Regions from separate parts of the Homo sapiens genome. Here region 2 is linked to region 1. Evidence: fine-mapped expression QTL. A gene starts in region 1. The other region holds a variant in brackets. All regions are shown on one strand. Distances are from middle to middle. Region 1 holds the start of FASLG (Fas ligand). Region 2 has its middle 46 kb from the start of FASLG.

Region 1 (16,066 bases):
GGAACGAGGACTTATTTTTGTCATATATCCTTATGTATCTTTTAAAATTTGTACCATGTACATGTACTACCTATTCAAATCAATCAAAAAATAAAACTAAGTCAGTGACAGATCAATCATTGATTGATTTAAATTCATGTTAGATAAAAATAAACTAAAACTAGGCAGCCTGTTTGTGTAATTTTTGTCCAGCAACATCCAGCTTCTGGGATGACAGCTTAAAGAAAATAGGATTTTTGCAAGGGGAATACATTGGAGGAAGAGAGTATTTTGGAGTTGAGAGTCTTTCCAAGGTGCTGGTTGTCATGACAGATGATGACATTTATGCTGGACATAGAGAGAAGTGAAGACGTGGAAGGAGCTGATGTGTATATAAGAAAATAATAAAGTTTATTAATTAGAAGTCTCAATATTTTCAAAAATATTTTAGAAAAGAAAATGTTGGACCAATTCCGCTGGAATAATAGAAGATGATGTTGTGAAAATAAGACACCTAAAATCAAATTCCAAAGGAGTTACTATAATTTTTAATGATAACAAAGTCTAGGGAGAGCCCATGATAGTGAGTGGTTGAAGAAAATAGGAAAAGGCCGTTGTGAATGACAAGCATGAGAATACAAGAAACCAGGTGCTTAGATGGATCCCACAGATCAGTGGCCTCTGGAGAATGAAGTGGCTCTAATAGAGTGGCTTAGTAGTGGCAGACACTATTTTTTGATGTTCTATGTGTCTGATACTTTCAGCTCTTTTTTTGTTCAAGGAAGGTCAAGTGACCTAACCAGTGCTTACATAGGCAGTACGTGGAAGAACAAAGATTCAAATCTAAGTTTTTTAGTCCAAAATATGTGCCCTTTCCACTGTGCCATGGTTCTGCCTTCAGGAAAATATAATTTCTCATCAAATCTATGGAAAGTTGGCTAAGCTTAACATTGGTCATAATATTGGTAATGGAAACTCTGGGAGGTGAAGAGGAAAGAGAATATATAGAGAGAAGGAAGGCCTAGCAAAGGCAGAAAGATTTGATTCATAGTTCTTCTCACTCCAGTAAATTATTCTTAAAAGTGGTCTGATATCATAATGAATGAAGAAATCAAGGAGGAAAGAAATAATAAGCAAAAAATTCAAATATTAGTAAATTCTAAAAATTATTTGTATCCTAACATATACTTTTTATTACATGTTTTCATTTCACAAAAATGCACATCTACATAAATATTTATTATATTATAGGAAAACATCATTAGTAGCTGACAATCAATGATTTTTAAGCACTATTAGAGTTGATTGTCAGGAAGCATTCAAAATCTTGACCAAATGCAACCCATATTTTCCTAATATGTACTTCACAATATCTACATTCTCTCTTTAGTCATACACACACACACACACACACACACACACACACCCCTACAATTGCACTGGAAATACACATGCTGTGTTAGGAATGAAATGAGTCCCCAAAACATCTCTCTTGCTTATCTGTTAGTTTCACCGATGGCTCAGGATATGCATTTAGAAGTGAAGATGCTGCCAGTGGGGCATTGGCCTCTTTCAGCCTCTTTAGCTTATTATGCAAGCCTCTAGTCTTCCTTTTCCATCCCTTAAATCCTCAGGTCACAACCATGTATCTGAAAGACAGTCCCCCTTGAGGTAGCAAGGCCCACCTTGAGAGGTGAGTTAAAAGGTGTCCTTTTCAATCTGCCTAAATACTCTCAGGCACTAAGATGAGTGTAGAACACCTGGTAGCTGCTTTTTCATGCTTCTCCCTCTTCACATGGCAGCCCAGAGTTCTATGTTCTTCCGTCATATTCCTCCATTTGTCTGGCTCATAAACATTAGGTGAGTTGAGGAGCTACAGACATTTTGAACCCTGTGGTCTCAAGGTCCACTTGGTTCATGTCTTCTTACTTGACCTCAAATGCATGTAAGAAGACCCTCACTGAATACAACATTCTCGGTGCCTGTAACAAAGAATCATAATGGAAAGAATCCCAAAGTGCTTCTCTTAGAGCTTATATAAGCCGAAAAACGTCTGAGATTCCTCAAAATTGACCAGAGAGAGCTCAGATACGTTGACATATAAATGATCAGCACTGGTAAGATTGAACACTGCCCCCAGGTAGCTGCTGCGGGCCCACATCTGCCCAGTAGTGCAGTAGCTCATCATCTTCCCCTCCATCATCACCAGATCCTGGGGATACTTAGAGTTCCTCATGTAGACCTTGTGGCTCAGGGGCAGGTTGTTGCAAGATTGACCCCGGAAGTATACTTTGGAATATACAAAGTACAGCCCAGTTTCATTGATCACAAGGCCACCCTTCTTATACTTCACTCCAGAAAGCAGGACAATTCCATAGGTGTCTTCCCATTCCAGAGGCATGGACCTTGAGTTGGACTTGCCTGAAATAAATCCAAAAGGAGCTTTCAACAAGGAATAGTCATGCATCCAACAAACTAAGTTTCTAAGGCAAAACTGTGGGCCCTTCCTTCAACAAATGTTTCACCCAGAATGACAGCTGGTATAGAACTGGCTGAGGGGTCAGAACTTGATCCATCACAGAATTTCCTCAACAACGTTGTCCTATTTTGTCATCCACACAATTGGAACAATAGTATATACCCGTAATCCATTGCAGTAAGAAATTATTGAGAAAATATTTGCTCTCTGGAACAAAGATTTTACTATCTTCAGAACTAGCACCAAATCTGCTAGGCTTTGAAGTCCTTTCCTGAAGGAAAAAGCCAAATCCAAGGAACTCTAAAGTTCTAAAGTTGGGAAGGATCTTAGGGACCATCTGGTCCATCTTCTCACCTGCAGTAAGAATTATTCAGCCCCTCAATTTGGGGTACAGTTCCCTTTTCTTTGTATCCCCACAACATCATGAACATAACCTAAATCTCTGAAGTACTGAAATTATCATAAGTGCCTGTCTTTCCCTATTAGATGTCAAGCTCCCTGGGGGCAAGAGCCATGTGCTACTCATCTTCACATCCCCAAATTGGCACACAGCAGGTATTCAGTAAGTGTCTGCTGATGTGACCGGATCATTCTATAATTTCTGCCTAAATAATTCCAGGGACAATAGCCTACCACTTTCTGTGATATTTATTCCATTATTTATGTAGTTTATAATGGGAGTGCCCATACCATATCATTTCACTCCACTTTACAGGCACATATTGAAACTCTACAAGTGCCAGGATTGAGTCTCCCTTCTCACTCCTATTTATACTCTTGGACAAAGCAGAGTGAAGCTCTTCCAGAAAACCAAGAAAGCACTGACTAAAATAAGTCCTCATTCCTCACCTTCTCATCTCTCACCTCTTGGATCTGTGCCCCCAATCCCCCAAGGGACTTTGGAATGACTGAAAAGAATGAGCTTCTTATGGGCAGGGGTCATGTCATAATCAGCTCCAGGTCTCCAATTTAGAAGAGGGCCTTGCCCAGAGAATAGGGGATCAAAGTGTGTTCATAAGACTGACTCGACAAGAAAAGTGTTAGTATTATTGGGTTCAAATACTGTCTCCAGGAAGTAACAACTCTCTAGAGCCTGGTAATGGAAACCAGGCAGCCATTTTGCCTTTTGCCAAAAGCTTTCCCAAATCTCACCTGTACCTTCCAGATACAGACCTGTTAAATGGGCCACTTTCCTCAGCTCCTTTTTTTCAGGGGGTGGACTGGGGTGGCCTGTATCATAGAGAGAGGAAAAATATATGTTAAAATGAAATAGCAACTATTATTTTGGTGGGAATTTAAATCCAATCATTTTAAAAAAAAGATTTTAAAACCGTAAATGGCAACAGTCTAACATATACTAATCATGTAGGTCTGAACTGCAGGATTCATAGTAGTCTATATTTCAGAAACAAAGAGGTAAAAAAATAAACCAAATTAAGATTGACATATGTATAAATTATAATGTTACAATAAAACATAATTAATATAAACATTTATTCATAAAGAGCTGTCATGTCAGTTATTGCATTTAGAACTCACCACAACCCTTTGAGGTAGGTATTATTGTCCCACCTTATCGATTGCAAAATGAGCTTAGAAGTTGGGTGACTAATCCAAGAAGACCCAGCTAGTCAGCATCACAGATGGGACCACACCCTGCTCTCCTGACGCCAATTCCAGGGCTCTGTCCACTCTGATTCTCTTGTTCCAAAGACTTACAGGACAGAGGCTGAAGAAGACTACTGATCTGTCTGCGTGTCACCAGATCTTCCCCCAGTGACATTTTACAATCTGCCCCAAATTAATTATCTTAAGACCTCTGACAATCACCTCATATCACTGAGTCCTCAAACACCTTTAATTGCTCCTCCCCGAAGATGCCGTCGTATACAAGTATCCCCATCACACAATCCCAGCCCATCTGTCCAGCCTTATCTCCTTACTCCCACTGAGCATTGCCACACAACGGGAGTTCTGTGGCCTACACATACCCCCACTTTCCTTCCTCTGTGCCTTTGTTCATGCCATGTCTTCTGCCCGTAATGTTCTTTCAAGCAGATTTCTGTGTCAAATTCCTAAACATCCCATAAGGACTACCTATTACCGCTTTCTTTGGGAAACCCTCTCAAGCCTTTTTTGATCAAATATGATCTGCCCCTCTTTTGAAATCTAGGATCCCTCTGTCTTCCCCTCTCTTGTCATTTCTGACTCCTCTTGTCTCTGGGGTAACTACATAAATTATCTTATTCCCCTCAAATAACGACAAGTTCCTTACGATACGTTGAGTTCACCAGAGAAGCCCAGTTTCTAACACAGGGCATGTTACTAGCAAATGTTGGACAAATTAAATGGAAGGATAGACAATAGTTCTCAAAACAGACACTATTTCTCTGACTTCAACTGTTTCAGACAAGATAGACAGCTGCCACTTAGCTAATGAATTCAGCTAACTGAGACTTCAATAAATATTCACAGGAGATGCTTGTCTATGTCAGGTTCGTGATTAGCCTGTAAAACTCACATATGGTATGAGAATGGCCCAATCCACAGAGAACATTAGCTGAGCAATCATGACCTCTCTAGTCATCCAAGACAACCCACCATGTAGGAGGTGTTAGCGAACAGGAAAGGCAAAACTGAGTCTCCTCTGCATTCCTACACCGCAAACCACCCGAGCAACTAATCTGGCACTCAGCCACGCACCGGCAGGAAACGGAACAGAGAACCACATGTTGCATGTCTTTATATCCCTCACAGAGCCTAGTACAACGTTATTCTTACAGAACATGCTCACTAAGAATATCTGCTGTACCTATACTGGAATAAATAAATTGCAAGGATATCCTAGACACTGGTTATGAGTGCTTCCTGCCCCAGGGTTTTTGCATGTGCCGTTCCCAGCGCTGAAATGCCCGCCCCCAGCCCCACCCCACTCCACAGCACATGCACACAGCCGTTCACTCATCGGGCTTCTGACCCCCAAGGTGTTAGCGTAAACAACACCTCCTTAAAGAAGATTCTCAGGTTGTACTTAGTACAACTTTGGAATTGCATGGTCTGTTTGCTTGCTTTTGTTTAGCTTCTTCCCCCTGCTAAAAGCTCCATAAGGACAGGCCCCCTGGGCTGGCTCATCCTCAATCAGCATCCAACACCCAACATCTAGCCTCACACATGTGAATGAATAAAAGATTTAATTAGTTAACCGGAAAAAAATGGAAAATGTAAAAAGGAGCAAATTAGAAAGTATAAATAATCTATAATAGTATCTCCCAGAGAAAATCACTGTTAGTATGTCAGTGTGTAAAACTTTCCAGTTCCTAAGAATATAAAAATGTGCATACATGGTTACATAGTCAGTATGAAACTAAACATACCCTTTTGTAACTTGTCTTTTTATCTAACAATACAGAGTGCACAATCCCCAAAGCATTAAATGTCCTTCTGATACATCACTTTTAGTTGCTGCTTATTATGTGCTTGTCTGAATACACCATAATGTATATAACTAATCTCGTATGAGGCATTCAAGTTTCTTCTGAATTATTTATTATAAATAGGCTCATAAGGAAGTAATGAACATCCTTATATATAAATCTTCGGGCACATCTCTGATTATTTTCTTAAGATAAATTCTTAGCGATAGGATTACAACGTAAACTACTAGTTACAAGCTTTTGCTATGTATTTCTAAAGCGCTCTTCAAAAAAAGTTATAGCAATTTACATGTATACTGGCTGAAACTAATGTTTGCACAGGCACTTTTCTCTCAAATCTTTGTCAGTCTGGGTTTTTTTTTAATCTTTATTAATTTGATGAAAATTGGTATTCCCTATTTTTAATTTGCATCTCTTTTCTTATTAGTAAAGTTACTGATTTGATTTCCATGTGATGATTTACCAATTTCTGGTTTATTTGGGTTGATCTAGAGAACATAATTGCTTACTGGGGTAGATGGATCTGACTCACCTGATCATTTGACTTTTAATCACTAAATTGACTCCAGAGAGTGGGTGAAAGATGAATAATTAGATACCTATCAGACCAGGCACATTCCACAGATTTTCAAAATGATCTTATTTCAGACGTCCTCCAGAGGCTTTACTTTTCTATCAAATATTTCCACTCTGCTTGTGTACATATGGACTTTCTAACATTTAAGGATTAGGACACAGAAGCAGGGGCCAGAGCATCCCAACAGTGGCTCATATAAGAACTTAACAGTCTAGGATAGTAGACAGGCGACTGGGTCATGTGCAGTAGCCACATCCGGAGAAACTGGAACTTGCTTCACTTAATAGATGGCCAGTGCTGCCTTCTTCTTTATTCTGAGTTTCTAAGGATGAGATCTACCTATAGTCTTTGCAGAGGTATCCTGCTTTTCATCTATTTCTTATTCCATGCTCACTACAGAGAGACAGGAGTTTCCCTCCTTCATGAGGCACCAGTCCAGTACTGGAAAGCCCTGTAGGTGACAAGGCATCAAGAGCCTGTGTTCCTTCTAGCCCCAATGGCATACCAGTGGTCTTGGGCATATTCACCTAATCCATCTGGTATTTTGTTTCTCTTCCAAAAAATGAAATGGCTGGACTAGATATATTCTAAGCTTCCTTCCACCTCTAAAAATTCAATGAATCTCATTGTAAATCTAAATCTAAAATTTCAATGAATCTTAGACTAGTGAAGCACACTGTAAAATCTATCTGTACAGAGCTTGCACAACTATGCCCTGAAATTTCATGAGATCAGTGTTCAACCTATCATCTTCTTGCCCTAGCTCCCATACAAAGGATTTTCCTTTGTGATCAAGGGTACCTCATGACTGCCTCTGTGGGTGAAGCTGAACATCCTTTGAATGATGGCTGAAGTCTTCCCTTAAGCTTCTCAGTGACTTCAAGAAAAACCATTCTAATGTGGGGAATTGATTATCCATGTTTTAAAAGCTTACATCCTATAAAACATATTGTAAATAAAGCTTCAATGTAATCTCTTTAGGGCATTTAAAAGAGGAAAGGACGTTTCTCAGAAACATCTGTCTCTGCCTTCATTTCGCCTTCTCTTCCCAGGAGTTACAGCCACTGGCGTGTGTGCCAGGACCAGGATGTCTGTGGAAGGGGACAGGCCTGGAGCCACTTCTCAGGGGGCAAAGGTCCAGGGTTGTATATGTGTGTCTCTTTCCAAAGTCAAGTGGAAGTGATTTTGAATTGTGTGCAGTGCTCAGCTATATTGATTGTGAGCAATTCAATTCACTTCACATTTTTAAAGCAGCTCAAGGAATCATAGACCAGAGATTCTGAATTAGCCAGAATTCCTCTTATAGTGTACAGAAACCAAAGTGTGGGACAGAATTTAAGGCATTCCATTAACATAGTTCTGTGCTGAGGATCATCTTTGGGAACTCAATGTACATGCGAAAAAAGACTCACCTATTTGCTTCTCCAAAGATGATGCTGTGTGCATCTGGCTGGTAGACTAGTAAAACAGAAAGAGAAAAGATGTATAATAAAAATAAAATTCTTTAAGCAAAAGAGGCAGAATCGTCAAATAAACCAAGCCCTGGAAAGAGAATCCAAATACCTCAGAAGTTCTGCTAACTTGGGCTTTGGCCAAGCAATTTTGCCTCACTGTCCCTCAGTTTTGTGATTTGGAATCGTACCAATTTTCAAGATTTAGTTTGGTCATCTGAACAAATTTACTTCCAAGCAAAACTTAAAAGTTTTGTTTGTTTGTTTTTTACTCCTTAAATCAATAGGTATGAGGCAGTAAGTGGTTCAACAGACTGAGTTGACAACTGAGGAAAGACAAACTGTTGGGCTCTGATTCTTTACAAAGTAAAAAATATTCCCTTCACCCCTATGAGCCTCCATTTCTCTGTCTATAGAATAGAATAACTAGAACAACCCATTTCTAAGAAAAAAAAAAAAAGGATTGAAAAGCACTTTGCAAGCCAGGCAGTGGGCCCTCCATCCCCTTATGCCTGGTGCCTCCAGGGCACAGCAGTCTGCCGGCAGGCTTACCTCTCGGAGTTCTGCCAGCTCCTTCTGTAGGTGGAAGAGCTGAAACATCCCCAGGCCCAATCCTACCAAGGCAACCAGAACCATGAAAAACATCACAAGGAGACACAGGCCTGTGCTGTGGTTCCCTCTCTTCTTCAGGGGTGGCAGCGGTAGTGGAGGCAGTGGTGGCGGCGGCGGCGGAGGTGGTAGTGGTGGCGGTGGCGGTGGTGGTGGTGGCCTCCTTTGACCAGGCCTTCTGGGCACAGAGGTTGGACAGGGAAGAACTGTGCCTGGAGGGGCCCAGGGAGAGCTGGCACTGCTGTCCACCCAGTAGATCTGGGGATATGGGTAATTGAAGGGCTGCTGCATGGCAGCTGGTGAGTCAGGCCAGCCCCAGCAAACGGTTTTACTTCTTCTCAGTCCTGTAGAGGCTGAGGTGTCAAGGACGGGACCCTGTTGCTGACTGCTCAAGAGGAGGCAAGCTGGATCTCTCTTATAGAGTTTCCATAGCTAAGGGAAACACCTCTGTCTTTCTCTTTCTCTATCTCTCTCTCTCTGATTCTGCTTCTCAAAGAAACACCCACTCACTTTGCAGCTGAAGCTGAGAAGCCTCAAGAAGCTCAGAGCAAACCCCTGGAAGTTTCCGCCCACAATTTTCTGATAACAGCCTTCAAGGCCTCAGTTGCTGTCGCTGTGCTACCCAAACAGGTTAGTAGGCTATGCTCACCTTCCTGGGATCCTGCAGAGCAGGTCAGCATGGGGGTATAGCCCTGTTAGTGTGAACTGCTCCCAGCTACAGGAGAATGGTCAGTGGGGCTATAATTTTATGAATTATAATTGCATGCTTTTTTATACATTATAATTGTATAATTTTAAGAATTCTACCATATACACAACCAAAAAACTATTTAAAAATCCCAAAATAACTCTAACAAAAATTGTTCAGAACCGTATTTTTTAAACTATAAAAATTTTACTGAAAATGGCTCTGAGGGGAGAGACCATGGAGTCATGGCCAGAGAAGTCACTCCCACATTTTAGTTTTTGCAGGAGGAAAACATCTGTTGCCATCATCTCTTCCCCACACACAACTACCATTTACCCTGACCTGCCGATCACCATAATTTACAGGTTAAAAACCTGCTACACCCACTTTAGAAATTAGATCAGAGGCTGCAAACCAGTGGAACCCACAGAGCTGCTTTGTATTTCGCAATGTTTTCATTTTCATTGTTTGCCCAGTTTATTTATTTACTTATTTATTTAAATAGAGACAGAGTCTCACTCTGTCACCCAGGCTGGAGTGCAGTGGTGCTATCGTAGTTAACTGCAGCCTCAAACTCCTGGGCTCAAGCAATCCTCTTGCCTTGGCCTCCTGAGTAGCTGGGATTATAGGCATAAGTCACTACACCTGACTAATTTATTCTTTTTTTTTTTTGTACAGATGGGGACTTGCTATGTTGCCCAGGCTTGTCTCAAACTCCTAGCTTCAAGACATCCTCCTGCCTCAGTTTCCCAAAGTGCTGGAATTACAGGCATGAGCCACTGCACTGAGCCCAACTGACCACTTTTAATATCAACATTAAAAATATTTTAAAATATATATATTAAATACACATTAAAATACATATTTCTATTCTGTTTTGAAATATCAGAATATCAGACACCCTCGAGGCCATCTCTGCAAACCCAATCAGTGGGAAGTATGTAGCAGCTGCCCCTGAGAATGAGAGACAGGAGTTCTGGGTCACCCAGCCTCCACCACTGGCCTGTGTCTCACACACCACCTCACTATCTGAAAGGCCTGCCTGGTCCCTGCCAACATTTCTGTGTGCTGCCCCTGTTATGGTTGCCAGATGAAATACATGGTGCCCAGTTAAATTTGAATTTCAGATAAATAATACATTATTTTTAGGACAAGTAGGTCTTAAACATGTCCAAACATGGAATATACTAAACAATTATTCATCATATATCTGACATTCAAATCTAACTCTGTGTCCTATTTCTTTGTTTTGCTTTTTTTTTTTTTTTTTTTTTTTTGGTAGTTGTTGTTGTTGTTTAAAGCTGGCCTCTCTACTTGGGCTCATCTCACCATTTCCTCTGGCCTCACATACCATTTATATGCCAATAACTTCCAAGTAGTTAGCTTCAGTCCTAATCATTCTCCAATAGAAGCCAAATAAATCCCCCATAAATCAAAATTTTTCATTTTTTTCATGTTTATTACTTTTCAAATTTCGTTAGTTTTTATATCATGCTTTGGGATTTCCATTACTATCATTCAGGCCCACTCACCTGTACCACACCAACCCCAAGGGTACTATTTCTCTGATACATTCTGCCCATCCCACCCCATCCCCAACCCTGTACAACCCCTTTCTCCTGAGGCCACTCTTTCTGGTGGCAACTTCATCTCCTTTCTTTTCCTCTCCCCCAACGTTTAACTGGTCACCCAGGACTGTCGCTTTTACCTGAGACCTGTTCCTTACCCTCCCCTCAGTGTACTGCCCCCCTGCCCCATCCTCGCTACTCCCATTTTTCTTACTGCTGTTGCCTGGGGTCAGACTTTATCTCTCACTTGAAATACTGCAATAATGCCCTAACAGGTGCCCTGCCACCGACCTTTCCCAAGCCCAAATCACCCAGTAAAATGCTATAAGAAAAATGCTTTTTAAAAAACAAACCTAATGATCTCACTTCCCTGCCTTCTGTTGGAAGGTTTGATTCAGGAGCAAGGCAAGCTTCTTACCGTTACCCAAGGCTCTTTAGCGTCAGCTCCTACTGCCTCCTTACCAGGCACTCCTGCTCACATCCCACTCTCCACTCTTAAACAGTGCAAGGGATGAGACTAGCAAGACAGTGCACGAGTTAACGAGCTTTTGAACTCACATGTGACTTTATTCATCGTTATGAATTCAACTAACTTTAAATTTCATAATCAGAAATTGTAATTTTAAGAATTCTACCATATAGACAACAAAAAAACTATTTGAAAATCCCAAAATAACTGTAAGAAAAATTGTCCAGAACCATATATATGTATTTTTTATTTTTTTGAGATTGAGTCTTACTCTGTCGCCAGGCTGGCACGCAATGGCGTGATCTCAGCTCACTGCAACATCTGCCTCCTGGGTTCAAGTGATTCTCCTGCCTTAGCCTCCCGAGTAGCTGGGACTACAGGCACATGCCACCACACACAGCTAATTTTTGTATTTTTAGTAGAGATGGGGTTTCACCATGTTGGCCAGGATGGTCTCGATCTCTTGACCTCGTGATCTGCCCGCCTCAGCCTCCCAAAGTGCTGGGATTACAGGCGTGAGCCACCGTGCATGGCCCATATCTTTTAAATTATAAAAATTCTACTGAAAATGTCAAAGATTCAAATAAGTGGGAAAAATACACCATATCCTGGATGGGGAGGTGGTGTTGCATGATGGTTGGGAGTGGGTGGTTCTGGAGTTAAACTATGTGACTTCCAATCCCAGCTCTTCTGCTCATTAACTGTGTGAACTGGACAGGTCACCTTCCCTCCTCGGTGCCACAGTTTTCTCATTTATAAAAATAAGCATGATCATAATAGTACTTGCTTTACGGGGGTTGGGAGGATTAAATGAGTCAAAGCATTTGATACACTTAGAATAGTCCCTAGCACCAAGGTAGGCACTCAAAAGATGTTGTAAATTTAGTGAATCTTTCCCCAAATAATTCATCTGTAGACTTAATATAATCGACCTTCTTCCATTAAGGACAAACAAAGTGGAGAGAGGGAGAGAGGTTGCAGGGGAAAGTGCAAAGTCCACGTTTGACATCCAGTATCTCTCTGAGATCCTACCCTGAACTGATGAGCCTCTCCATTTCAGACTAGTACCTCTCGATTTTTCTATCTCAAACTCCCACAGGAACTTCCAGCACTGTCCAATAAGAATTATGCTGTATTTTTACATCTCCTTCTTCCCTGCTGCTTCTGTTGATTCATTCTGCAACAGAAGAAATTAGAAGACCATACCTGCCCCCAACTCTCCTGCTATCCTCCAGGCATAGAGAGAATCTGAACTGAAATAGAGTCAAAGAGAGCATCTTTAAACACTCATATTGATCTTCAGTAATGCCACCAAACATCACAGGTTGGCAAAGTCATGGAAAAATAAAACAACCCTATGTACAATAACAGGGACCCATTATGTTTTGGGGTATTTCCAAACCTTATTAATAAGGAGAAATAATTGTTACAAGTAGATCTTAGTTCTGTGAATGCTAAAGAAAATAATATTTGCCTTTGAGAGATGAACTTAATAAATAAATCAAAGGCTGGTGGCTCCCACAGGCTGGGAATTTAAATGGAAGAGCTTTGCTAAGTCTTGCTCTACCCTCCCCAATTACACCTGCAGAATCTCTGATTCTGGAACCAGAGGTTCCTTGAGGATAGACAAAGGAGAAATATTCAGAGCTGACAATCTCTTTGAGGAGGAGGGGGGGGCTTACGAGCCATAGAGATTCAAAGGGACCTGGGTGACACTTGGGAGCAAATTTATATGGAGGACAAAATAGGAGAAACCACCTTATACTAGTTGTTATGATTTTTTAAAGTATCTTCTCATTAGATGAAAATTCAAGTTATCTTCAATTGTGGTCCCTCCGGCATTGTAATTTCCTTCAGAAATTGTCTTAACCATCTAGAAAAAGGATTTAAGTATGCTGCTACACCTAGGATGTTAGTCACATGGAGGTTAAAAGGACAGGGGCATAAAGAGAACAAAGTTCCTATTTCTTTCTTCCATCCAGTGTTCTACCAGGGAAGTGGACTCAGTGGATTGTAACTCAGAGCTCCAGAGGTGACTCAGCAGTCGCAGAGAGTGATGCATAAGGAAAGTAGCTGCTATGAACCTTCACAAACCTAGAGGAGACTTCCAAGGGCATCTGCCAAGTTAGTAAGAAAACCAAATCTGATTTTCCCCAGAGGTGAGCAAAGACCCCAGTACACTCCTGGCTGAAACTTGTTTATTCACAGACATGCACCTATATATTTAATTTCACTAAGTGATTTCTGGATGCTCATCTGAGTGGCTGAATGCCTTGACACCACCACCAATTATGAAGAACTATTTTATCCCATGTCCTCAGCTCTACTTGGTATTATCCATCTTTTAATTTTTGCCAAGCATTATGACTATAAAGTTATATATCATTGTCTATTGATCTTCCTTTTTCTGATCTCTTGTGAGGTTAAACATCTGATCATATGCTTGTTGGCATTCAAGTTTTCCTTTTTGTATATATTTCCTGTTCACATGCCATGCCCATTTTTAAACTGGGTTTCTTACCTTTTTTTGTGCTGATTTGCAGGATCTCCTTGTACTTAATATTATAGATATAATCCATAGTTGCACAGGTTTTGTATTTAGACTTTAATCCATCTGGAGTCCACCTTTGTGAGATGAGACAGGAGTCTATTTTTCTCCATGTATGATCTAATTTTTCCACACATCCCATCTTTTCTTCCACTGAATTGGCATATTTATCACATATCAAGTTTCCACATATAGTCGAGTCTTTTTCTGAACTCTTATTTCTATTTCATTGATCTGTTTATCTATTCTGATACCAGGGTCACATTGTTTCTGTAATTGCAGCTTTGTGGAATGTCTTGAGAGATGGTATGGCAAAATCCCCTCCTTTTTGTTTTTCTCTTTTTAAAATCGACTCAACTTTGGGCATATTTAATTTCATTTTTTCATATGTATATGTATATATATGAAATATATATGGAAAAATATATATGTGTATATATGTATATGTATATGAAAAAACTATCATGTTCCTAAAACATCCTACTGAACCATTAAATGTAATTGCAATAATTTGGAGGAACTGTTATTTTTACCCTATCCGTAACAGTTTTTCATATTTTTATGACCTTTAAAATTTTTCTCCAGAGTAGTCTCATACACCCTTTCTTAGATGAATTGCTTGATGCTTTGTAATTTTGTTGTGGTTACAAATGGGGTCTTATTTTCTGTGGTATTTTCAGATGCTGTGGTAGGTAGTCTCTAAGATGATGCCAATAATTGCCCACTTCCTGGTATTTATGCACTTCTATTATACCCTCTCCTTGAGAGTGGCCTAGACTTAACTGACTCAATTCTAGCTAATAGAATACAGCAGAAATGATGGGATTTCTCCTCTAAGATTAAACTGCAAAAAGAACTACAGTTTTCATCTCTTCCTCCCCTCCCCTATTCTAGGGGAAGCAAACTTCCAGATTGTGCGTAGACCAATAGAGAGGCCCATGTCGCAAAGAAGTAATTTTTCTGGCGAACATCCAGCAAGGACCTGAAGCCTCCAACAGCAACGTGAGTGAGTCACATGAGTGGATTCTGCTCCAGTTGAGCCTGGAGATGATTGCAGCCCAACCTCTCTCATAGGTTAGCCCAAGTCACCCAGCAAAACCAAGCTTGGATTCCTGACCCACAGAAATTGTGAGATAATAAATATTTTTTATTTCAAATCATTATGCTTTGGGGTAAATTTTTATGCAGCAATAGACACCTAATAACAGACGGTTATTGTTGGTTTAGATAAATACTCTTTATTTTGTAATAAATAATATTGATTCTTGCAAACTTGTGGATCTCTCTTTTTACTTTTGATAGTGTGTCTGTTGATTCTGTTTTTTAATAGAGATCTATATTATCAGTGGAAAAGGTGACCATTTTTTATCTTTTTTTCAATCCTTATACCTCATTCTTTTTCTTTTCATATTGTCCCAGACCTCAAGAACTCTTTAGAACAGTACCCGTGATTTTGGACCTGTTTGTCTTCATCCTACTCTTGAAGAGTCTGCATCTAAAGTTTCTCATAATAAGTGTGAGTATATTTTCCAAAGGTATTTGGATTTTTGTCTGTTGCCTCTGTCACTAAGAGAATTTCCCTATTGTATCAATAGGATCTCATCTGCAAACAGCTGAAACACTCAAATTAGAATAACTTAAGAAGGACTTAATAAAAGGGATTGTTTACAAACACAAAGGTGGGAAACCAAAAGGGATCCTATGATGCTCTAGAGCTTGTAGGACCAGGGTTGTTGACTTCCAGTTAAGAATTGCCAGCCTGTCTAAGGTGACCACACAAGGAGGAGCCACAATCAGTACCCTGTTCCACCACCTCCTTCTCTTCTGCTGGTACTCCACATTGGGCAAACTCTACTGAAGTCCAGACAGCAAGGAAACCCACTGACATGGTCCATACAGGTTAAGTTCTCAGGAGAGAGAGCAAAATGTAGTCTGTATAATGTTGACCATTTGAAACTTATTGAGACTTTTCTTGCAGCTAATACTCTATTTTTGTGAGAGTGTCTCTTATTTGAAAAAAAATCTATTTTCAATTTGCTATAAATCCATGTATTTGGTATAATTTACATATATATATCAGTTGAGGCTTTTTAATTATATCATTCAAGTGTGCTGTATCTTTGCTTGACATTTCAGTCTCTAAAATGAATATATTAAAATTTCCAAGTGCAATTAATAATATATTTATTTCTTTATATATTTGTCATTTGATCCCTTGTTTTGAGCTATCTTGTTAGATACATATATGTTCCTAATTATTTTAC
Region 2 (16,066 bases), 45 kb before region 1:
GCATGTAAAATACTATTTTAAAAGAGGTCCATAGCATAAGAAAGTTAACTCTAGTAATAAATTCTTAATTCCAACAAAATTCTAATACCATGTCAAATTAGATAATCTTTAAACAAAATAATATTAGCTTAGCTCCCCGTATGAATTCCTTCAATGAGCATAACTTAATATTATGCCCTTGAATTTTGGGTGATTGTAAGAGGCATCTACCAATAGAACATCTGCACAGGCATTGCCAAATTCTGTAGTTATTATCCATTATAAGGAAATACACTAAGTTAATTTCTGTTAGAAATGAATTTTTATAGTTCTGTTTAACTAAACCACAAGAACTGTCTCTTTTTCGTTTGCCTTTTAGTTGTTGTCATTGTTTTGCTAAGACTGCCCAGAAAGTCAGGGCCAAATGTAGTACCTGATGATAATGAAAACATCATCTCAGTTTTGCTGTAAAGTTGCCTCCTTTCCATTAAAATAGTTTCTGTTATACTGTTTTACCTGTCCTGTATTATACTTTAAAAAAAATTATAGCTTGACACAAGATGTTTTTTGAAGTAGGAAGGGTGAGAAATACGAACAAATTATTCTTAATGGCTTTGCAGAACATATTATAAAGTCCTTCTATTGACATATCGTATGAGCTCTTTCCCATCCTGGGAAAGGAAAATCAAAGGGTCTGCACTTCCCCCCGACCCCTATCTAAGTTCTAAAAGCTTTCCAAGTCATCAGTGTTCATCAGCACTACAACCCTCATCAACTGCTAGAAATGGAAGGGCTTCTGCTCCTGGATGTTAGTTGTAGAAGCCCAGGCAGGCCATGCCCACCACAAGAAGATTCCACCAGGCCTAGTAGAAATAATCTGCCCCCATGACATTCCAGTGATTCAGTTCTCCCAAGCATTAATTAGCAGTTATGCAAATATTCATGAACAGCGGAAGGACTTGGGCTTTTAAGGAGTTACTCACAAAACCAGCATCTGATTTTTTAAATCAATGTAATTGCTACCCACTTCCTACTCTCTTCCTTCCTTTCCCATCCTCACTCTCATTCCCCCACAACCCAGATTCACTCATCCAAGGGAACTTCCAGAGGCTTCCTGAAGATTTCCCAGGAAAAACAAAGGAATAAAGGTTCCAAAAGAGAAGTGGCAACCCATTTGAATCATTTCAAATCAAGAATGAGATGCCTTGAGACTTCACCCTGAGAGAAGCACCCAATGTGCCCACCCACCAAGTGTCGATTTTGGCCTGACTCACTGGTATTGAGAGGAAGCAATGAGTTTTCATAGTGAATTCGTGATCAGGAATAAGGAGAGCTGAGTGATGTAACTTTGTTCTACCCTTGATCTGTTGGAAGATCCAAGGCATATTTTACCCATCAGTTTTTCAATGGGTGCTCAATGACTAGCCCTCCTTACAAATTATTCTGTTCTCTCGGGAAGAAAAATTATAACCAAAACCCACACAAGGCTCAACTTATGGTACCAAAGGGTAGAAAATATTTTCTGCTTAGGAAGTAGTGGTCATGGAAAAAGAAAAAGATAAAGAAAGAAGAAAAATAAGAAAGACAGAAAGGAAAACAGGAAGGAAGGATGGAAGGAAAGAAGGATAGAAGGAAAGACGGATGGAAGGAAGGAGGGAAGGAAGGAGGGAAGGAAGGAAAGGAGGAAGGAAGGAGGGAAGAAAGGAAGGACAAAACAATCCTGAGGCTGAGGCCTAATTTCACAATTTACCTTGTGTATTTTTCTTGTATTTGTCTGTTTATCATAATGATGATTTAAGTTTTACCTTAGAGTCATAATTTCTCAATACAAATTCCACCCTTGAATAATTGATCAATGCCTCTCAGGAAGTCAGAAGGCTAAAAAGAGCATTAAATCATTCAACAGAGAGATCATAAATAACCACCATGTGTGAAGCCCTAGAATAAAGAATAAGGAATATTTTAGTGAATAAAACAAGCCCTAAAATTAAAAATCAGTTGTATTTCAATGAATAAAAGTATATTCTACTTACTAAGGTAAGTATTAATTTCTGTAATAAATTTTCTGTAATAAACTTTAAGGACTGCATGCAAGACTCTATCCTACATCAATTGACTGCAAATCAATCACTTTAATTAAGCTAAGCCCTCGCTCATGGAAATGTTTTTGGTCATTTTTCATAAGGTTAAATATGCATCTACCCCATGAGTCAGCAATTCCACTTCTAGGTGAATGCCCCCCCAAAATGAATAATATGCCCATAAAATACTTGTTGTACAAGAATAGTCATAACAAATTTATCCATAAAAGACAAAATCTGGAAATGACCCAGACGTTATCAACAGAGAATGGAGAAACAATTTTTAGTGTATTCTTACAATGGAAAACTATTCAGCAATAAAAATATATGAACTTCTGATACATGCAACAACATGAGTGAATCTTAAAGACATTACAACATAATGAAAGTAAGAAGCCAAGAATAGGAAAAACTGAGGTATAGTGACATAAGTCCAAAAATGGTTACCTTTGGTGAGGGATTAACTGGAGAAGGGCATGAGGGAACTTTCAAGGATGTTGGGAAAAGTCTGTATCTTATTACGAATGGTGGTTACTGAAAATTTAAAATATTCCTTCTTTGTTTTATGTAAATTATACCATAACTTTTAAAATAAACCTATATATAATTGTTTCTTCTAGTTCTCCTGCTCACCTTAAAAAAAAAAAGAAATGAAAACAGAGAAAAAAAGAGAAGAATAAAAGACAGGCATAGTCTTTGTAGTCCAATAAGGAGAGACAGACAATTCACAAGGAAATAAGCACACTGATAATCAAAAGTTATTGATAAATGCATGAGGTAATTGAACAGAGTGTAGTAATACAGAATAGTGGGGAGGGCTCTTGTTAGCATGACTGCGGAAGGCCTTTCTGAGATCACCCGAGAGCAAACAAGCCACATATGGAGTTTATGAGTAAAGAGAAGCATTTCAAGAAGAAGAAATAGCATGTGCAAAGACTCTGGGGTTAGAGTGTGATGGTTCCCGGAGTCAAAGGGGCCAGTGCAGTTGGAGCATAGTGGAGATGAGGATGGGGAGGTAGAAAGGGGCCAGACCACACAGGCCAGACAGGCCATGGTCAAGAGTTTAGATGTTATCCTTAGAGTAACAGAAAATTATGAAGGGGTTAATGCTGGGGAGCTGTACAATCTAGTTTATGTTTTCTAAATCATTACTGTGGCTGCTGGCATGAAAATGAACAAGAGGAGCCCATGTGCTTTGTAAATCAGGTTCTGTCATGAAAGTTATTAACCTCTTTGAGACGGGATTTAGTTTTTCGGTTGTATAAAGCAATTTTACTCTATCATTTTGATCTTAAAGTTTTGAGTGGGATGTGTAAAAGAAGGATAGTCCTCTACTAATTGAAATTGGTTAGCTTTTTTCTGATCATTTTATTTTGTTCTTCAACCTGAAGAGAAAATTACTCACATACTCTTGACAGCAGAATGGAACTTGTTTGTTAATAAAATGCAGTCCCTACTGTTGAGACTGAAGCTTCTGGAGGGACATAGAGAAAGGATAAAGAAGAAGTTGCCCCCAACCAGCCAGTCCCAGCCACTGGGTCATTTCAGAATCAATTGGTGTAAGTATGGGGAGAAGGATAAGTACAGACTTCAAAGCTAGATTGTCTTCTTCAGTATTCTGCAAGTATCTTAAAAACAAATGCATAGGTTAGCAAAAAAGAGAAAAGCAATTTTCTCATCTCTTCTCCCCAACACCTCATCTCCCAGCCTCATAAAGAGTAGACAGCTCAGCCTGCAAAGCGAACATGGAAAACACCCATCAAATCTACAGCTGAGGAGTCCCCAGAGAGAGACACAATTTCATACATCAAAGGCTGCAAACATCCTCAGGTTGTCTGATTATGCACTACTTGGAACAATGAATAATATTCCACCCCCATGGGGCTGCCTGATTAAACAAAAAGTAAAAGTTGACAAACAGTGTGGGGAAACAGTGACAAACTCAGACACCTTATATCTGCAGTGGAAATCAATGCTCAGCAAATGTGAGGTGAGGAAATCCCACACCATGGGAGAGATCAAAAGAAAAAGCTCTAGCTGTTTAGCTTGTTTTCAGCGTGTCAACTGAAGCAGGTGTCTTCTCACTCAGAAATCCGCAGAGCAGGGAGTACCCAAGGTGACCTCCACCTCCCACATCCCACTTGGAAACAAAAGTTTTACTTGAGAACAGATTTCCCCAGTATCTTTAGATCACTAAGTTGTTTTAAGAGCAATAAAATAAAAGGTTAGAAAGAACAACAATGCAGTCTTATCAAGTTATAAACAAAGAAAAAGAAAGACCATCAGAGAGAATAAGCTGTACCTACAGACACATTGGAACCTGATTTCCACACCCCCGGCCAGGAAAACATTTTTCTCAGAAGCCACCAACCGAGCGTCTTCATTTACTTGAATCTGTCAATGTCCGAGTATTCTTCGTTCACCGGGAATTAAGCCCTAGCCACAGTACTTGCCATGCTTTTGCCACTAAAGTCAATTCATGCTTTATTTATCGTTGAGATCTGTTCGCTCTCTCTCTGCTCCTCATGTGTAATTTTTAAAAATTTAAGTGTTTTGTCAAAGCAAAGAGTCTGAAGGTTAACTATGGGTTCCCACAGAATTTAGAAAATAGAAAAAGAGAATCCTGGCTCTTCTTAATTAGAGCATGAGGTTTTAACTCAGTATACATAAATTCAGGCCCATTATCTAAAAGAGAAAATAAATGTTAAGTACTGCTTGTTTATATTCAGAATCTAAACATCTCCATAAGATTCCAAAATGAAAATTTGGTGGCATTTTTGAAGTCACTAAGAAAGCCAAACATTCAGGAAGCCTTCATTTCTTTTCAGAAAAGGCAAAATAAGTCCACTTCTGGCTCTCCTAGAAAAGAGGGTTTTGCTTGCAAGTGTTTCAATTTGAATCCTTGGAAAATGAAGACAATCTGAGGGTCAGTTTTGCTCTCACCCTCATTTTCTTTCACTGTCTTTTGTTCTTTTGCCAGAGAAGCCCGCACTGAACTGTGAATGTGATGGTCAATACTTTATTTAAGAGATCTTCAATAAAGCATACTACCTAAGTGCTAGTTTTCATGGAATCTTTGGGGTCTTGGAAACCACTGCTGAATTAGCAGCAACAGCAGGCAGGATGTGCCGTGGCCAACCCATGGGGTCTTGTCACTTCTGAAGACCCTAAGCCTGGCTCCCTCTGATGTATCCGTGGCCACAGTCACTTCCCACTCACCCTTGGTGAGAAGCAAGGCAGACTCTATGCAAGTATTCTGATTACCACACACCGAAATTGACCCAAGAAGAAGCCAGCATGGTAGAAAGCAGAATGCTGTAACCCTTTGGGCTGCTAAATCAACACTTTGAAACCTGCCCTATCTCTGAACTTTCTGACACATGAAAGAATTGCAAACCTTATATTAAAGGCACATTTGAGTCTGAGAATTCTGCTACTTGCTGGCAAAATTACCCTGATCCAGGGAGTCAGCATTAGTCAGAGAATGTTTTTTGGGTGCCTTATGTGCCAGGCACAACACTGGACACTAGGTACACAGCAGTGAATAGAAGGGAATTCGCCCTTATGGTCAAGTGGAGAAGACACACATTAAATACATAAATATACATAATGAAGAAATTTCTAATGTGCAAAAGTACTACAAAGAAGAATACAGGGGCCTCTGGACATGTACAGCTAGGGGAACTTTTAGGGTCTGGTGGAGCCAGAGAAGGCCTTCTTGAAGAAAGTCGCATTTAATTTGAGCCTGGAACAATAAGTGGGAGTTATTTAAACAAAGAGTGTGTGACTTGGGGGAAGGAGGGTCAGGTAAAGGGACAGCACATGAAGGGACATTTCAGCGCATGAACTTTAATTGGCCCTAGTATTCAGGTCCACACAGAAGATGGCAGGAACAGAAATTGGGAGGCTTCCACTGAGGCTGGAGGGGTAAGAGTCAGTGTAGTGGCACAAGTAGCCAGAGGGCCACATCAGTAGGTGAGCCAAGTTAAGAAATTGGGGCTCACCTCAATGAGAAGCCCTGGAAGAGTTTTAAGCAAAGAAGTGAACAGCAGAACCAGATGTGTGATATGTGATCTTAAAAGAATACTCCAATAGCAAGGTGAAGAATGGATTCCTGGAGGTCAAGAGTAGGGCCAGAAGAGCAGGAAACCAAGTGAAAGGACAAGGATGGGAAAGAATCTTACAGGATGGAAAGCATGGAGGTGGTAGACTTGATAATGGGTTGGACAGAGGAGTAAAGGAGAGAGCGTAATCAGAAGTGATCCCTGATCCCTGGCCTCATGTGTGGAGAACAGTGCCATTTACTGAGATTCAGAGCAGGGAAGTTGGTGGGGCAGGTGGTAGGGAGGAGGAGGAGGGCCATAATTTAGTTCAAGGAATGTTCATTTTCAGGTACATATGAGACAGCTAAGTTTGCTCTCTGTCTCTCTCGAGAAATATGTTGATCAAATATTTAAAAGCAGGCTCAGAAATCTGGGGACCTTATTTTCAACACTGAATTTGGGTACTTAGTTACACAAACAACAAAGTCTCCATGACCAATACATACACCTGGCCCTTGTGGTTTTCTAGCTGGAGTAACTACCCAACATTCCCATTTAAGGTAGGGGCCCACAGTATGTTGCACTTTGCTTCTCCTTCCAGAAGATCAGTAAAAGAACCATAATACAGCACTCTGTACTTCTGAGATGACCAGAGCTGATCTTCGATGAGATCAAAAAAATAAAACCTTAAAAAAAAAGGGTTCTTAAAAAGGGTTCTATCCCACTGTCTAAGCTCTTCCATGCTCAATACAGGCTATCTGTCTTCATGAAAGGTACACCACCTGGACCATCATTGTTCTATTCCAAAGGGACATCACAGGCCATGTCAGCAATGACCTTTTATTGGCCCTAGTATTTGGATCCACACAGAGGAGAACAAAACAGCCTCAGAGAATAACACAGATGCTTCACATTTGGATCAATGAGTATTCAATGGCGTGATTAAATAAGATGTCTATATGCTCAGCTAGGGAAACCCTATTTCATTTATATTCACTATTATCTATATTTAATAACTATTTACCACTATATACAAGCAAGTAAATGTGTTGCTATATACAAGCAAGCAAATGTAATAACTATTGACCACTATATACAAACAAGCAAATGACTTGAATTGTATTTTTCTTGAAAAGGAATAATGTTTAAACAACCGTCAACCATATTAAAGTACTACAAGCTTCCTGGGAGTGTCTTTTATCTATGGCACATATTGTTTGGACTCTAACTGGGTTTTTAATTGGGAATCTAATGGGTTTATCATGTACAACATGATAATTTGAAATATGTATACATTGTGGCATGGCTAAAAGAAAACCTCTGTCTCTGTCCAATGGCTATAACTATAATGTTATAAGATGGAGTGGGCTTGTCTATTTGGTGATTTCTCCAGTGCTCCTCCCTGCTTTCATTTTCCTGTATAATCTCTTGCAATTATGGTAAAATTGTAGCAGAACATGTCAAAATGAATCATCTATCCCCCCAAATGTCTACTTACCAAAAGTAAATAAGGCTTACCTACTTGTAGCCCTTGTTCGTTATGAAAATTATTGAAACCTCAAGCAACTAAAGCCTACCTCCAGACAAGACCACAGCACGCTGCCAGGAAATGTCTCTTCAGAAGAGGGGGCTCATAGGAAAGCAGTTTTCTCTTCTTTTGTTCTAGGAGGAAAGAGACATTTGGCTATGTAGAAGGAGGGCTCAGAAAGGTAACTTATGAGGAGAATGAAAGCTCTGGAACTAGAGAATTTTTTTTGACAACTGGCTCATCCTAACCACAGATAAGCAGAGGCTGGTTTCCTGACATGAAGGCCTGGAAGGGAACTAGGAGTGCACTTGGAAGAAGCCAGAGTCAGGGACAGGAAGGAATCACTAAGAGAGTGCTATTGAGATGGGGAAGTGACAATGGAAGGAGACAAAGCCAGGGCCTTCTCTTTGTGATTTTTATTTTACACATTGTTTTCATTTTCCTTTCCTTCCCTCCCCCTTCCCCCAACACCAGCTTATTCCTGCAAACCCTCTGAGGAAACAAGTATTTTGCCTATGAATTGCCTGGGTGGGTCTGAGCTGGATAATCTAGCAAGCTCCTTCAATGTTCCTTCTCTTCATACAAGGTATAAAAGCTACAGAAGTTGAAAAGTGGTGTATGTATTGAATATGTCATTGATATATTAATTTATAAGGGCATTTATACATTTGACTGACCTACAAAAATTCCTTTCTTCTATATACAGGTTAAGTCAATAAGACACAGCCAAAGACCAAGGAGCATTTTCTTAAAAGTCCTGGCAGACAGCAGGCTGTTGATCCCTCTGACCTCTCTATCCGAGTGGTGTGCCACATCCTCTTCCTCTCTCTGCCCATCTCTGGGTGT[G/T]CCATCTCTATAAGTACCACCCACAGTGGGGAAGAGGTGAGGGTGTCTGCCTTTAAAGAATGGACAATTTCTTAGTTTTGTTTCTTCTTAGTGACTTAAAACTAAAGGTTCATTGAGTTGGGAAGTCACAACTATTGACTAGAAGGAGACCTTAAAAGGATTTATTGCCCTCATATGTTGTTTTTCCCACTCTTCCCCTATTCATGAAACATCTGCTCAGCACAGTGGCAGAAGGAGTGATTTACTGGGCCTTGCCCACACCAAGAGCATTACTGTTTATTGCTTTTGTTCACATCTGTCTGCTGGGTCATTCCCACCTATCTCTCAAGGGATATAGGTCCAGCTCTTGACCCACATCCTTTCTAGAAATGGTTTTACCATCTTGTTCCACAATGAATCCCCCGACTCCTATAATTCAGACCAGAGCTGATCTGGAACGTTTACTTGACATTTGTCATGCCCAGAACTGCCATGGTTCTAATCTTTTTGTGATCATCTAAACATTTACATAGAAGGCCTGTCCTACCAACTTGACTGTAATCTCTTTAAAGACTGAAGGGTGCAACACCCAGCCCAGGGCTGAGCATTCCTAATAAGGACCTTCAAAAATATTTAGAAGTATTAGTTTTCTGCTAATAAATAAATTTCTAATTTCCATCCTCCACTTTATTCTTCATCTTGCCTAATTGAATTGATTTCTTTTCCACTTCTCTTTCAAATTTCTTTATGTGTTTGGCTCTTTTCCCCTTAATAATATGCTATATTTTACTATAAAAGTCCTCAAGTGAGTCTGTATCTGCTCTCTCCAGTTTTTCTTCTCTTATTCTTTCTTACACTCCTTCAAATAAGATGTTTGTCCTCAAAGTCACACCAAACCTGCTCTTATCAAAGTCACCAATGACCCCTACTTTGTTGGCTCAATTCTCAGCATTTCTGAGCACTCGTCATACTTGATCTGTAAAAATCATTTGACATAGTAGACCATTCCCTACTCCTTCATACACTTTCTCCACCTGATTTCTAGGAGCCCACACTCTGGTTTTCCTCCTACCCTGTGGGTCACTTCTTTTCCCTCTCCTTTACTGGTTTCTCCTCTTCTTTCTAATCTCTTTATCCTGGTGTATGCCAAGACTCAGTCCTTGTTCCTCTGTTTTTCTCTGTCAACATTCACTTATCCAGTCTCATGACTTTCAATAGTGTTATATTCCATGACTCTCAAATTTCTACATCCAGCCCAAACCTCTCTCTTGAACTTTAGAATCATATCCAGAACTGCCTACTTTATATTTTTGAATATAAAGTGTTGAAATATAAAGTGTTGGAAACACAAGTCCCTTTAGGTTCAACTTATCCAAAACAGAACTTTTCCTCTTCTCTCTCACACGTGAACTCCTGATCTTCCCTGTCTTCATCTTGGTTAATTGTTACTTCATCCCTCCAGTCACTCAGGTCAAAAATAACCTGTGTGTGTCTGAGCTGGGTATCATCAAACCCACCCAGCATGCCTGACCTCTTTCTCTCTCACAACCCACATCCTATCAGTCAGTAAATCCTGTCACCTCTTGCCTTGAAAATATTTCCAGGATCTGACCACTTCTCACTACCTCTGCTGCTCCCACCCTGGCCCTTTTCACCCTCACCTATCTCTTGGATTGTTGCCACAGCTCTTTCCTGGTCTCCTTGCCTTTACCGTTGCCCATCCATAGTCTCTTCACAACGCAGAAGTCAGACCCTCTTAAAGCATAAGTCAGATCATATCACTCCCCTAAAGAGGATCCCTACCTCACTCAGAGTAAAACCCAAAGCCCTTACAGTGCCCAGTAAGGACGTGCCTGAATAACCCTTCACCTACCTCCTTAATTCTCTGACCTCACTTCATATGACTCTCCTCATCCCCCACTCCACTCCAGACAAACTGACCTCCTTGTGCTGCCTGGAACATGCCAGCAACTCTCCTTCCTTAGGTTCTTTATACCAGCTGTTGCCTCTGCCTGGAAACACGCATGCCCCTGAAATCTACCTGAATCATTCCCTCATCCCCTCTTAAGCCTTCACTCAAATGTCGTTTTCAGCGAGACCTACTCTGGCCTTCCTATGTAATACTACAACCGCATTCTATCTCATACTCTTATACTTTCCCTATCTTGCTCTACTTCTCTTTTTTTCTTAATCCTATCACCGTATAACATGTAACATACTTATTTGTTTCATTTATTATTTCTGTCTCCACCAGCAGCAATAAAAGCTTCATGAGGATAGGGGTCTATGTTTGCTCACCAATATGTCTCAAGTCCTTCGAATGGTGCTTTCACATGTATGGAGGAATGAGTCAGTGTGTTCAGAAACCCACTCAATCCCACAGCAATAGAGAGCAGCCTGTTGCATATGCCCCTAACTCAGAAAAGACAAATCCAAAAGGGACTTGACTATTCATCAAAGTATAAGGCTTAGGACCCCATTTTCCCTCTGTGTTCCCACGTAAGCATTGCCTGCCATCCCCTTCATACAAGTTACTGTGCAAAAAAGGAATTTACCTTGATATGTGGATTCCACTGTAGCCACAGGACTGGGAATACATGACAGAATGTTGTTATGAACTATTATTTACTTTTCTAAGAAAGAACAGATTCTCTTCCTTCAATAATTATTAAGCTCTGACTCTGTGCCAGGAATGGGGAACATGCAGAAAAGGACCCTAATCTCCTGGGGATTTAATTCTAGTATAATTGCATATCCTCATCCTCAGTCTCCACCAAGGTCTGTCTTCAGATGGCCAGCTGGTAGAATGTTATTTCCCCTGGTGGGGAAAGAAGGAAAAACCCAGGCTCTACATTACTCTTATCCTTTAAAACCTTGCTACTCAAAGTGTGGTCCCCAACTAGCAGTATTAGCCTCAACTGGAACTTACTAGAAGTGCAGTATCTCAGGTCCCATCCTAGGCCAACTGAACCAGAAACTGCATTTTAATAAGACCCAGAGATGATTCTTATAAACCAAAATGTTCATACATGTTGAGGTGCACTGCCTTGGAATTCTCTACTGAATGCACTCGCATAGGTATTACATCAATTATGTGATAAGAAAAATTTGAAGAGTAGAAAGGAGTGAACTAACTTCATGTTTTCCTTTTGCTAAAGGACAAAATATCAATTGATTACATGAATGATAACATGAACTGTAGTAAAAAAAATCTAGATTAATGAGTCTGATCACTTACAAATTTATAGAACACAGGCTGATCTGAAATAAACGTGATAATCATTTGCTGAGATTTTGCGCTGTCATACACATTCAAAAGGCAATATTTAAAATGATTTAAGTAGATATGTTTAAAAGGGTAGACTCTGAGGTTAGATTTTCTGATTTCTAAGCCTGTTACTCTATCGCCAGCTGTGTTTCCTGGGCTAATTTGCTTGGCCTCTCTTAAGTTTCAGTTTCTTCTTCTGTACAATAGGAATAATAATACTAGTACTTATTTCACAAGTTTATTGTAAGAACAAAATGAGGCAATGTTTATAAAGAAGTAAGCATAGTGTTGGTACAATATGGTTGTCTTATAGTATACTGAATTGCATATAGTAAGAATTCAGTAAATGCTGTATTACTATTATTTCAATCAACATTCAATTTATCCAACAAATATTTTACTTATAGTATACAATAATATAGAAAAATCAGGATGGAGTATGAGGAGCCTACTTAGATAAGCAGGTCAGTCAAGTCCTCTTCGGGGAGAGGAAATTTACATGGAAACCTGGAGAATGAGAAGTAGCCAGTCACATAATGAGCGATAAAAATCAAGTGGGTGAAGAGAAGAGCTGCTCAAGACGGGTCAAAATCAGGCAGGGCATCATATTCCAGAAGAGGGGTTTGGATCATTTTCATAATCATTGTGAAGCTACTGAATGCTTTTGGACAAAGGAGTGAGTTAAATAGAAATGTGTGTTGGGGCTCCAGTGGGGACAAGGGTCTAGAAAATGTTCCCAAGACATATGAAGATGTATCAACATATTGTCAGTTTCTAAGGAATTGTTACTCAAATAGTCTGACTTGAGGTTTCCTGCCAAAGTGGAAAATCCTCCTCCCATGTCCTCCCACCCTTCATTTTGCTACTCGGCCCCTTCTCATTTAACACTTCCAGAGCCCAGCCCACACGTCAGTTTCTTTGTGAAACTTGTCTTTGTGAAACTCTGGCTTATGTCCGCTCTGTTCAGGGCTCTTTTTTGGGATCACTCAGAGCACCTGGCACATGCCTCTGGAGTAGAGCCTGTAGCTCATGCAACTGTAAATAGCTGCAATTCCTTTCTCTCTGCCATACTCGTATAAGGCTAAATATACCCTTTCCAGCTTTGAAGTCTTAGCAACTATTATAAAGTGGGGACACTGGCACATAGTGAGCACTCAGTACATGTTATTTTGAATAAATGACCTAATATTTGTTTACCATTTCTTTCCTTACTACAAAAATTGTGCCTAATTCAACTTCTGCATGTCAATGGCAAACTGAGGACCCTGAAACTTGGAGTTTTCTTGAGAAAATTATCTCTTTTAGTGACAATCCCCTGGAAGATAAAGATCTCAATTTGCAATATATCTAACAAAGTGGACATGTATTTTGCTCACTTTTTTTTTTTATCTTCAGCTAAGGATTATTACCATAGGAACCATAGAAGAATTTCTATACTACCAGTGCTGTGTTCTGTTTTTCTTAGACTTTCCTTTCTGTAGCCCTCTGCGGTGCTTCTCATCTACAGAGGGGAAACTGAAGCACAGGAAAAGCCGGCCACACAATGAGTCAGTGATCAGACAAGGCTTCCTGTGAGAGAATTTCTCCGGAGGCATCTCTGAGGCAGACACACTCACCCCTGACACTACCTCACCTTCCATGCTCTCTCTCTCTTATGTATCCTCCCAGGTACAGCTTTAACTCTTCCCTCATCCTATCAGTCCTGGCCTGTGTTCTTGGCCACCCCAGAAAACCCAGTTACCTCACCTCTGACCCCTCATCTGGACCAAACCTCCTATGCTGTCCCCTGTCCTTATCCTCCCTCAGAACTAGTCACTCTTCCTTGTCACCATTGCCTTCCTGCCACCTTCCCCCATCTGGGCACAGATACCTTGAAGGCCTGCTCTTTGAAACAAATAAAGAACCTCAAGTTGACAAAGAACCCGAAGGATCACCAAATACCACTCCAAAGGTATTTTCCAGAGTACCTTCTGGATCAACCAATTTGTGCTAATGGGAGGTTAAAGGAAAGGAGGAAAGGCCTAAACTGGAAGGAGCCAAAATAAAGTACCCTTTCAACTTTCAGAGTGATATAACTGCTGTATCTGCTTAGTCAAGACCAGCATGCTAGCATGTTCACTGGTAGAGTTGGAATTCATCTCTACCAAAACTTTTCTTGGGCCTGAGAGGACAGGAGAGAAGAAATTCCCTTACTGATGAATCTGTAACATACATCCTTGCCAGAGAGTATTCAGGTTTAGGCAACCTAAAACTTAAACAATTTTGGTGGCATCTTTTAGAAAAAAGAATATTACAAATTACAAATACAAAATTAGGTACCAATGTGAGCATTTATTTAGAATAAGAAGAGAAATCATAACAAATTGCACATTTTTAAAAAGCTGATGAATACCATTTATGGTATCATCACAAAATTCACGGCCTTCCAGGCCCAGAGTAGTGAGGAGCTCTGAAGTTTGTTTCACTGGCATATGAAACTCTGACATCAACTCTGGAGTTCTTTTTCTCTTTCATTTCCTGCCTATATTTTTTGAAAGGTTATCTGTCCTCATCTCCCCTGTTTTGTCACCACTGAATCACTCCCTGTATGTAGGCACTTAGTTCCAGTCCACATCACCTCAATGAAACAATTGTCTCCAATGTTCCCAGTGGTTCCTGGTCCCCAAATCAGAGCCCTCATGCTCCTATCTCTCATTAGCCGTAGGCACTCATCACCATGTTTTCCTTCCAAAATTTAATCTGCCTTGGCATGCAAGAGCCTATATTGTCACAATTTTTCTATGGCATGTGTTAATCTTTCTTTTTCATTGGTTTTACATCCTCTTTCCATTCACCAATCAGGTATAATCCAAGGCTCTATCCTCAACCTTTTTTGCTCTTGTCACTCCACATGTTTCTCCATCACCTCTCAAATCTTCAAACATACAGGTAATTCCCCAATTGCCTCTCTGGCCCTGACATCTCTCCTGTGTGTCAGTCCTACCAATTTCACAGAACACCTCCCTGTTAAAGTACCCCTGGACCTCAAACTCAGTGTGCTCAGAACCAAACCAACTGCACTCACTCCTAAACTGGATATGGCCCTCACTACATACTGAAACTCACTGTTTCTAACGTTAAACACTTCATTCTTCCCCCTAATTAGCTGCTTATCAGAAACTCCTCCTTTCTGTTAAAGGTTTGACCTAAGTGGATGATACTCAGTCATAATCTCAGCATAGGAAATGACACTGTCTTTCTTTTGTCTTTTCTGCCTAAAGAAATTCACTCGGGTTTCTTCCTCATGAGAACAGGAAGTTGCTCTGAAGGGCTGCCTGAGAGGAAGAGCGTCGGCAACCCACTAGGTAAGGTCTGGTTTAAATTTAATTCTCTGTTTGTCTCCAAGACAGCCCACCACAAGACTTAACTCAGCCTAATATTCAGTCAATAGAGATGATGATTGCAAAGTCAGAAGGCCTCCTTGGCAGCATCCTAGAGACTCTTACTTCCTAAAGCTGGAAGGCAAAAAAAAACTCTGAGGATCAGTTCTAGGTCTTAATGACAGGTTAGTAGACTCCAGGGAAATTTAAATCCTCAACTTTGGCAAGTCTGCTTTGTCAGAAGAAGGACCCTAGTTGAAAAACAATGGTACCTTGAGACTTGGAAATAGGACATTTGGGTCAATATACTCAAAAACCTTGAAACACCAAATTCATTTGACCTTTCTGGATGAGCAGAACTATCCTACTCTTCCCTATTAAAGGCTAACACTTCTCCTTTACATGAAGATGACACAGCAGCCACTGTCTTGAAAAACAATATTTTCAAAGGTCAGAATTTACTCCCACCTCCCTTTCTGGCCACCTGGCCAATAACTAGGCTCATTCACAACATAGTATGTCACAGTGGGGAAAAGCAAACTCCACCACCACCACCACAACCATCCCTCAGTGAACACAATAAATCCAAACCAATTTTGCATCCTAGGGGAAATGGCAGGGGTGGTAGTCCTTATCATATTTCCATTTAATTTACCAGTCTAACCCATAAAGAAACTCTATGGATCCTGGAGGATGCCCATGGACTGCTGCAAACTCCATCTGTACTGGCTCTAAGTGCACTTGCTGTGACAGATGTGATGTCTTTGTTAGAATAGATTAGCACAGCCTCAGCTACATGTGCCATTGACCTAGCCAATGAGTTCCTTTACATCCTTTCAAGACAATAGATCAAAAGCAGCCCACATTCATATGGAAGGGACAATAGTCTACATTTTTGGTCTTCCCCTAGGGTTGTATTATCCTCTTCCTCTGGCATAATATAGTCTGAAGGGGCTTGGACTGTCTGAACATTCCAAAGAACA

The links.
Region 2: its variant is fine-mapped to the expression of FASLG in whole blood (TOPMed, PIP above 0.99). The same link has a PIP of 0.9 or more in blood mononuclear cells.

Annotation. Positions count from the first base shown.
Region 1 is chr1:172,651,956-172,668,021 of GRCh38, reverse strand. It overlaps FASLG (Fas ligand), which reads right to left and starts at 8,919. Exons shown (of 4, transcript NM_000639.3): 1 at 8,473-8,919; 2 at 7,882-7,927; 3 at 3,632-3,688; 4 at 1,146-2,400. The coding sequence starts at 8,820. The coding sequence ends at 2,006.
Region 2 is chr1:172,696,594-172,712,659 of GRCh38, reverse strand. No RefSeq gene overlaps it. Among named protein-coding and RNA genes, the nearest start is that of FASLG, 46 kb to the right of the region's middle. The variant G/T (reference allele first, on the strand shown) is at 8,478.